Linked DNA regions of Homo sapiens: region 2 is linked to region 1. The links come from fine-mapping of genetic effects on gene expression. A gene starts in region 1. The other region holds a variant in brackets. All regions are shown on one strand. Distances are from middle to middle. Region 1 holds the start of ARMCX4 (armadillo repeat containing X-linked 4). Region 2 has its middle 10 kb from the start of HNRNPH2.

Evidence for each region. PIP is the estimated chance that this variant, and not a neighbour inherited with it, causes the effect.
Region 2: its variant is fine-mapped to the expression of ARMCX4 in whole blood (TOPMed, PIP above 0.99). The same link has a PIP of 0.9 or more in blood mononuclear cells, esophagus mucosa, esophagus muscle, gastroesophageal junction, monocytes and sigmoid colon.

The regions. Positions count from the first base shown.
Region 1 is chrX:101,483,284-101,487,675 of GRCh38, forward strand. It overlaps ARMCX4 (armadillo repeat containing X-linked 4), which reads left to right and starts at 2,173. Exons shown (of 6, transcript NM_001256155.3): 1 at 2,173-2,247; 2 at 2,740-2,809; 3 at 3,910-3,989; 4 at 4,325-4,392.
Region 2 is chrX:101,415,979-101,420,370 of GRCh38, forward strand. It overlaps a transcript of ARMCX4 not described here. Among named protein-coding and RNA genes, the nearest start is that of HNRNPH2, 10 kb to the left of the region's middle. The variant G/T (reference allele first, on the strand shown) is at 2,392.

The DNA.
Region 1 (4,392 bases):
CTAAATTCCAAGGAATAGAATTATTGGGTCAAAGAATTTGTGAAATATTATAGTTATCATTTAATAGAGTTTGCCAAATTGCCCTATATAAAAAGCTTGCATCAATATCTGCCTCCAACAGAGTAGAGGAGTGCCCATTTCTTGACAAACCAGTCAACAATATTATCAAGTTTCTAAACTTTGAGAAAATCATACTTGAAACATGGTAAGGCATAGTTGCTTTGATTTGCATTTCTTTGTTTGAGCATCTTTTCATATGTTTATTAGTAATCTATTTCTTTTCTGTGAACAAATCTGTTCATGTCTTTTGGCACATTTTTCTATTGGGTTGTTTATCATTTTACTAATGATCTGTAAGAGCTTTTAGATTATTACAAGTTAGCCTTTTGACAGTCAATGTTTATGGTTTTTTTTTTTTACTTTACCAAAGTTTAAAATTTGTATGCAATTAATTTATCAATATTTTCCTTTGGTGGAGAAAGTAAGTTCGTCACTTTCAATTGAGTTCTGAAAAGCCATTAGTAAGATTGTAAGGCACTAGGACTTCCTTTCTTGGCTCCTGAAAGGGCCTCCTCCACACAGGGGCCCCTCACAGTGGAGCCCCTCCCTCTGGGGTGTCCTATTTCAATGTTCTAAGAAAGAGGCTGCCTGGAGGGTCTATATTTGGAGTATGACTCCTCAGCGGGGACAGGTGGATGCGTGGGGACTAACTTCTGCATATTTGGTCCCTGAGTTTTGGGATTATTCTGAGGGGCTTGTATGGGAGGTGCAGTGAAGTTGTAACACAAGGCAGGACATGAAAAAACTTCTTTTTCTTGGCAATTGCTTGGGATCCTGTACATTGCCCTTCCACTTGTGAGGGAAAAAAATAATGACACGGACATCAGGTGTGTTGCAGTGATTCACAGTCATCCACAGACCCTCACCACCATCTCCACTGGAAAATATTGAACACTCGCCACTGCTAGGGTAGTATGTAGTACATGAATGGCAGACACCGGCGAGATCTCAAGTGTTACGACGGATGAAAATTCCACCTGTTAAGTCTCCTTTCCATCCAAGCTCTAGCAGTTGGTTGTTCCATGGGTGTGGTGAGGCTGATCTGATTACATGCTTATGTAAAATCCAAATAAAGCCCCTTGAATGGAAAACAGGTTAATTTGGGAAGTCACTAGTAAAGCAGGTTAATTTGGTAAGTCACTAGTAAAGCACTAGGCTCATCAGGAGTTGGGTCTTAAATATATCCTCTAGAAGTCTTCTCTGAAGAAGGTCTTAGACACCTGAAAAAAGATGCTGAGTTCAGCCAGAACTTCAAAAGTTACAAATCACCTGTGTAAAATTGTCAATATTAGAAAACGAAATGTCTTTCCAAAGATTAACTTATAGATCATATTGAATACGTGCTGGTTTTGTTTAGGACAATTTTGTATTTAAAATGTCAAGAATTACTAGTCAATTTTGAAAGCTGTAAAATAGTTTGCAGTAACAGAAGACATTTTAAAATGTGGCACAAAATAATGTAAACAAAAGAATGAGTCTTTTGTTATTTTTACACCCTGAATATTTTTTGTGTCAAATGAAAATGGCTATACTGTATTTTCTGATTACAATATTAGAAAAGAATGTCATATTAAAAGAAAAAAAAGGAACACGAAAAAGAAAATTAAAGCTCTACTTGCACCTTCTGCTTTCCTTCCTGATACCCCCTTCCACAGCCCATTTGGTGCAGGCATTGTACTTAGAGAGGGCAGGTCGTGTAGGGGGCGGGTGGGGAGTGCTGGTCTTATAGTCTAAGAGAGAAATAAGTGATTACTCAAAGAAGAAACATAAAAGGCCACAGCCAAGGGCCGGGAGTGGGTAGGGGGATGCAGACCCTCCCCTGTAACTGAAGATGGGTAAACTCCAACCACAAGGCGATGATGCCACTTGTGGGCCCTCAGATTGGAGAGGACGGAGATGAGTGACAACGCGTGCGCACTGGGGCACCGAGCACAGACCAGAGAACGGGGATGTCTGTGCGTGCGGAGTGGAGGAGGGGGGAGTTCCTGGTGACTGGCCGCCGGCCCTTGGTGGGTGGTAGGGGGTGCTGGGGAGGAGGGCGAGCTCGGCGGTGACGCGCGGTCCTCACGTGACCCGGAGCTGCAGAGCTACGCAGCCTTCGTTGCAGTCGTCACTCGCATCTGGCTACCAGCTCCCCGCTGCCCTGCGCTCGGCGGGCTGGCATCGGGCCCGGGGAAAGCGGAGCAGGTAAGGGCCCTGGGGCCCGCGCGCCCTGGCCAGGCCGGCAGAAGCTCACTGACCCCGGCAGCGGTTACGGGGCTTGAGGGGGCGGTGGTCTATGCTGCCTCAAGTTCGAGGAGCCTTTGCCTCTGATTCTCCCTAGCCCCCTTGCCCCCGCCTACATCTGTGCAGGCGAACCGTGGGCTTTGATTTGTGGGGAGATTGTCTCTGCCAGAGGGAAATACAGAGATTGAGATGCCCATCGCTCTAATCACTGGCCACACATGTCCGCTCGCTTCCTGCTCAATTTAGTGGAAGGGATGCGCCACGGTGGCGTTTGCAGAGAAAATGGTGGGCCTTAGAGACTGGACGGTGGGGTTGGTAAGGGTGGTGTCTCAGACTGTGGGGAGGGACGTTTGATAACCAGGTTCCTGAACCCGGAAAGGCGAGTATTGGGATCTATGTCCTGGGCTCTAGACCAACACTAAGTGGTTTTACTCTCTCCTGTCTGTCGGACAGTAGTTCGGTGTAGCACTGTTTGCGGCGAGGAGAAAGGAAGGAGAGGAGAAAACTGCACTGGATCAAGGAGGTTAGTGTGAGTACAGACACTATCTAAACCATTGGAGTTCCATATGAATTCTATGACAGGAACTTAGGTGCGGCTGTCTGAATGGGATGTGGGGTGGGGCTAGCTTGGGGACTTTCCCTAAACTGCATTTTACTTACCAAGCTTAGGACTTTTAAATTGTATGTTGAAGACCAATGAAGACAGCAAACTTTTCTACAGATGCTTTTATTTGCATTTCAGATAATATTGAGAAAAAGATAAATTATATTAAAGAATATTATTATTATTATTATTTTTTAGATAGCCTTTGGTGGGGAAGGATAGTGATTTTGTAGAAGCAAAAGGCTTCCCCTATAGCTTTTCTCTTCTGCTGGAGACTCCTAGAGATAGGTTGAAAGGGACGTGGACAGCAGTAGGTTGTGGTTCTAGAGTATGGGATCTGGGGTCTCCCATCTCTCCTGCCATCCTTCAGTTTTCCAGATCCCTCTACCTACCTGACCATCTTGGTGAAGGAAATGGTGGGCTTTTGGGGAAATCCCTAGAACCCTACAGGTGGTTTTAAAATAATTTGCCTTGTTGGGCCTAGTAGCTCTTGCCTGTAATCCCAGCACTTTGAGAGACCCAAGCAAGAGGATTGCTTGAGCTCAGGTGTTCAAGACCAGCCTGGGCAACATAGCGAGACTTCATCTCTACATATAATTTAAAAATTAGCTGGGTATGGTGGCACAGTCTGTAGTTCCTGCTACTTGGGAGGCTGAGGTGGGAGGATCTTTTGAGCCTGGGAGGTCGAGACTGTGGTGAGCCATGATCTTGCCACTGCAATCCAGCCTGGGTGACAGAGTGGGGCTCTGTCTCAAAATAAATAAAAAATAAAATAAATAAAATAAAATAAAATAAAATAAAATAACGTGCCTCTGTCTGTTGCCTTTTACTTTTCCTGCCTCCCTTTTCCATCCTTCCCATTTCAGTGCTGGGGAAGCCCCAGGCTTTTTTTTTTTTTTTTTTCTGCCAGCAAATGGGTCTCTAAATCCAGGCAGGCAGGTACAGGGACCTATGTCTTAGATGGTAAGTGTCACAAGTACTTAACATCCACTCTCTTCTTTTTCTCCATCTGTTCCAAGGTCTTCCCATAGGCCTGCAGTAGGGCTGTTTACCATTGGAAGCAAGGGAAAGAGGAGGAGATCAATCTAGAAGCATGGAGGTTGGTGTGAAGTGGGGGTAGTCTCTGGGGATGACAAGAGAGGGTGGGCATAGGAGGTGGGTGAGATTTAAGAGGGTCTCAGTGGAGTGCTGGATTGCCACAGTGCTGCCATGCCTCCTGTGGATTTCAGTGCAGGAAATGATAGGAATATGGGGGTAAGGGTGGGCTGGAGTATGACTGGGGGAAGACTTGATGGGGGGACCATGAGATGGTACACATTAGTATATAGAACCTGGGCTCTGGCGAGGCAGACATTGGGGTCAGGGATCAGGTTGCTTGTCTGTTCTACCAGGGACTCGGTTTCCATTACCTACTGTTTGTTTACTTGTCCATAGATCTGCCTGCATGTCTGCTGCAGGGCTTAAGATCACTGGAAGCAAAGAAACAAAGAGGAGATTGCTCC
Region 2 (4,392 bases), 67 kb before region 1:
TCAGAGGATTTATTTTCAACTGCGTGTGTGAGCTATTTGGCAGGATCAGGCAGAAAATTTGCAGCCACAGTTATCGTGGTCTAAGTATCCGATGGCTTGTGCCAGTGGTTCTCTGGGTGTGGTACCTGATCAGTAACAGCATGAACCTCCACCTTGTGAGATATGCAGATTCTTTTTGCCCCCCCGCCCCCCGCCTCGTCCCTTTCCCCCAAGGACTGAATCAGAAACTGGGTGTGGAGCCCAACAAGTTGTGTTTTGTTTTTTGTGTTTTTCTGAGACAGGGTCTCGCTCTTGCCCAGGCTGGAGTGCGGTGGTGCGATCTCAGCTCACTGCAGCCTTGAATTCCAGGCTCAAGTGATACTCCCACCTCAGCCTCTCGAGTAGCTGGGACTACAGGCGAGTGCCACCAAGCCCAGTTATTTTTTAAAATGATTTTTATAGAGACGGGATCTCACTATGTTGCCTAGGCTGGTCTCGAACTCCTAGGCTCAAGAGATCCTCCTGCCTTGGCCTCTCAAAGTGCTGGGATTACAGGTGTGAACCTCTGTCCAGCCAATAAGCTGTGTTTTAACAAGTGCTCAGGGTGGTTCTGCTGCAGGAAACTACTGGCTGATGGATACATGGATTCCATTATCCACCCATTCATTGATTCCTGCATTCACTCATCCAACCCTAAAGGAGGTAACCAAAACAGAGACAATCCCATGTGTAAGCATGACATATCTTCTCTGCCTTCTCTACCCAGCAAAATGATACGAAAATGCATTGCGAATATGTTTATAAATCAAGCTCCTTTTCCATCAGGTAGAATTCCTAGTGCTGTCAGCTAAAATGAAGATTTCTCCAAGATGGGCCTCCAGGGCTATTGCAAAACAGCTGCTGATGGAAGGAAATTCCACTTGCTGTGCCTTATACCAGGCTGGGAGTGTCACAAGAACCCTTTACAAGCTGCTCCCACAATGACCAAAACTGTCTTCTCATGAGTGCAAAGCAGGCATGCCCAAGGGGCCCAGGTTAGCATGGTGCAGGACTCCGCTGGGAAGGTGAGGGGTTATCGTCGCGGGGGAGTGTCGACTAACTGGGCTGGTGGTGCAGGGGTAAAATAATTTACCAAGACAGTTGGAGGTAAAGGCAGATTTATTAGAGAAAGTAGGAAAATACGTTTCGAGAAGGCAACGGGCAGCCTGCAAGAGAGGAGCCGACTGAAAAGAAACAAAGGCTTGCTGGAGATTTTATAGGATGGTTTTTGGGCTGATTGAGAAAACCAAGGCAGTAGGGAGCTAGCTTGCATTCTTCTGTTAGCTGGGGTGTTTGATAAATTGAGGCGTTTGATAGTGAGCAGGAAGTTTGTGAGTTATGTATGTTATCTGCGCAAGAAGCCACATGTCCTGGGCCATAAAGAAAAGCAGACCTATAGCTTATCTGATTCCTCTTTTTGTTTATATGTTCTGGACCATGAAGAAAGACAAACTTATAGCTTATTTGCTTTCTCCCTTTGCCTTCCCCTGCTCCAGCCAGCCTAACTCCTTTTTTCTAATTAGGATTCCACAGTTATGTTGTCCCTGTGCCTGCAGCCTGTGAATGGACGCCCCACCACCTCCGTCACAGCAGTGGTCAGCACAGATAAATGCACACAACACACATCGATCTGGCCCTCTGAGAAGAGAATGTTAGGCTTCTGAAAGAAGAGATAAATAGTGAGAGATAACATCTAAGAATCAAAATAATATATTCAGTAATTATTTTCTGAACCTATCCTAATGCTCTGACCGATACATTCTTTAGAACATCTACCCGTACATTCCAAGGACCCTTTTTCCACGGCCCTTTTTCTCCCTGTATCCCTCTTCCTGCTCCCCTTCTTTTGCACAGGGCATGTTTCACATATACAAGATGTTCTTACGTGTCATCCCACTTTAGAGATGAGGAAATTGAGTCTCAGGGAAGGCAAACATCAACTTTGTCTTGGGGAAAGGGCAGGAAGCTGGAAGGGAGGAGGAAATGAGCTCTGGCGAAGGAAAGAGGACATGGCTGGGATCCTTATGGGGTGGTGTACGAGTACCCGTGCCCCCCCCGATCTGTGGGCTGAGGGTGGCGGTGACTAGCGCTGGGACCAGCTCCTTCTCTCTCGCTCCCAAGCCCACAAGAATTCGGGGAGAAAGGGTGAGGTAGGGGGCTCCGGGAGAGCGGAGAGAGTTTGGAAAGAATCCATCCCTCCTTCTCCCCGGCGGCTTTCTCGAGACCCTCACACAGCGCCCCGCCCCGCCCCAGTACATTTCCTTTCAGGGAAAGGGACAGGGAAGAGGCTGTCGGGAAATGGCGGCCGCGGCCGGGCTGGGGCTTCAGCGGGAGGCAGCAGAGGGGAAGTGGTCAGCGTGGCGAATGACGGAA[G/T]GTGGCGAGGGAGAGGAAGAGGGGTCGGGTGTCCGCGGAGCTCCAAGAGGGAAGACAATCGCTTTGCCAAACACGGCAGGGCATCTGGAAAGGCCTGGGAACCTCACCCGCCCTCCCAGGCCCTTCGGGCTCTTTTCGGTCCCATTAGGAGGAGGGGGAGGGCGGCAGGTGGGACCGGGCACAGGCCTAGTCGTGCGACAGGAGAAGGGAAGGAAGGGCCGGCCCCAGCTGGGTCCTCCTTGCGTCTGGCCTGTGCCGGACGCCCCCGACTCCGAGTGATCTCGGGCCGGTCCCCGGGGGAGTCCAGCTTCTCGCGCCAGGGGAGTTCTCAGCCCCAGGGCAGTCCAGGGATTAGGCGGAAGGGGGCACGCAGCCACCTGGCCGGGGCAGGGGGAGCTGCGAGGAGCCTTTTTTTTTTTTTTTTTTCCTGCGCAGAGCCCCTTGCGTGACACACAGTAGGCGCTCAATACATGTTTATTTTCAGTTGAGTGTTGCTTCAGCTTTTATGGCTTGTGATAAATCCTTATCCTTCTGTTCTAGAAACTCGCATTGTCTACTGGATCAAGGACAGACAGCTCACCAACCGTGACAGCACCATACTGGAACTTCAAAAAGTTCTGAAAACATGTTGGTTCGTTTGTTGGAGTATTTTTCAACTTAAATTCCTTTTCCTTTTTTTTTTTTTTGCTCACTTTTTCCTCTGCAGAAAAACCTTAAAATGTTCTACCTTTTCCTTGAAACCTCCTCCCACTCCTTAGTTCACATTGACTTGTCTTTAAATGTTTTTGAGAAAATAATCAGAAATGCACAATTAGTGCTTGGTGGTTCTCAAATTATTTCACGCGTGGTAGTTTTGATTTTTGCTTTTCCAGTGAGGCTGTACCTTTCATCCTTAGGCAAATATGATGGCTTTCAAAAGCAGCTATGGGGTGGGAACTGGGAGTGGCTGCAAATGGGCATGGAGCGTCTTTTAGAGATAACGAAAATGTCCCAACTTAGATTGTGGTGATAGTTCGCACAACTCTATAAATTACTAAAAACTATTGAATTTGCACTTGAAAAGGGGGAGAACTTTATGAAATATAAATTATAACTCAAAGAAGCTCTTAAAATGCCTATGGAATAATAAGTAAAGAGTAGTGGGGATATGATCTATTTTGTGGGGAGACTAGCAGCAAAGTAAGACATAAAGATAAAGAAACATACACTGGCCTGAGGAAGTAACAAAGTCTCTTTGAGCAAACTTTGGACAGGCTCCTCTCAGCTTTCTTTTCAACTACACCTTGTCCTTGGGCCCTGTCCTCGGCCTGCCTAGCCCAGTTTTAGCAAGAGTCCTGCTGAGTAACTCCCTCACCCTTGATACCTGATCACCTTGTCCTGCCTTGAGCGAGAATCCTGTTTAGTCAGTTGAGCAAGAATCCCCCTACCCTTGATATCTCTCTCCCCTTAGGAATTTTCTTTCTACTGACTCCCTCACTCTGCTGCTTGACTGTAAATCCACACTTGTCCTAGTTGTCTTTGGATTGAGCTTAGTTCTATACTGAAGTCTCTTTTCCTCTATTATAATAGTACTCAAAATATGGCTTTACTGCTTTTGACTAGTATCTGGCTCTGTTTCCCATTGGCGGAAGGCACTCTCAGACAGTGCTTCTAGTAGTATATATTAGCATGACCTGCCAGGGTACAATTCTTTTTAAAAAGACCACCAATTGGCTGGATGCAGTGGCTCACGCCTGTAATCCCAGCACTCTGGGAGGCCGAGGCGGGTGGATCAGGTCAGGAGTTCGAGACGAGCCTGGCCAACATGGTGAAACCCCCATCTCTACTAGAAATACAAAAATTAGCTGGGCATGGTGGTGTGCGCCTGTAATCCCAGCTACTTGGGAGGCTGAGGCAGGAGAATCACTTGAATGCAGGAGGCGGAGGTTGCAATGAGCCAAGATTGTGCCACTGCACTCCAGCTTGGGTGACAGAGTGGGCCTCCGTCTCAAAAAAAAACAA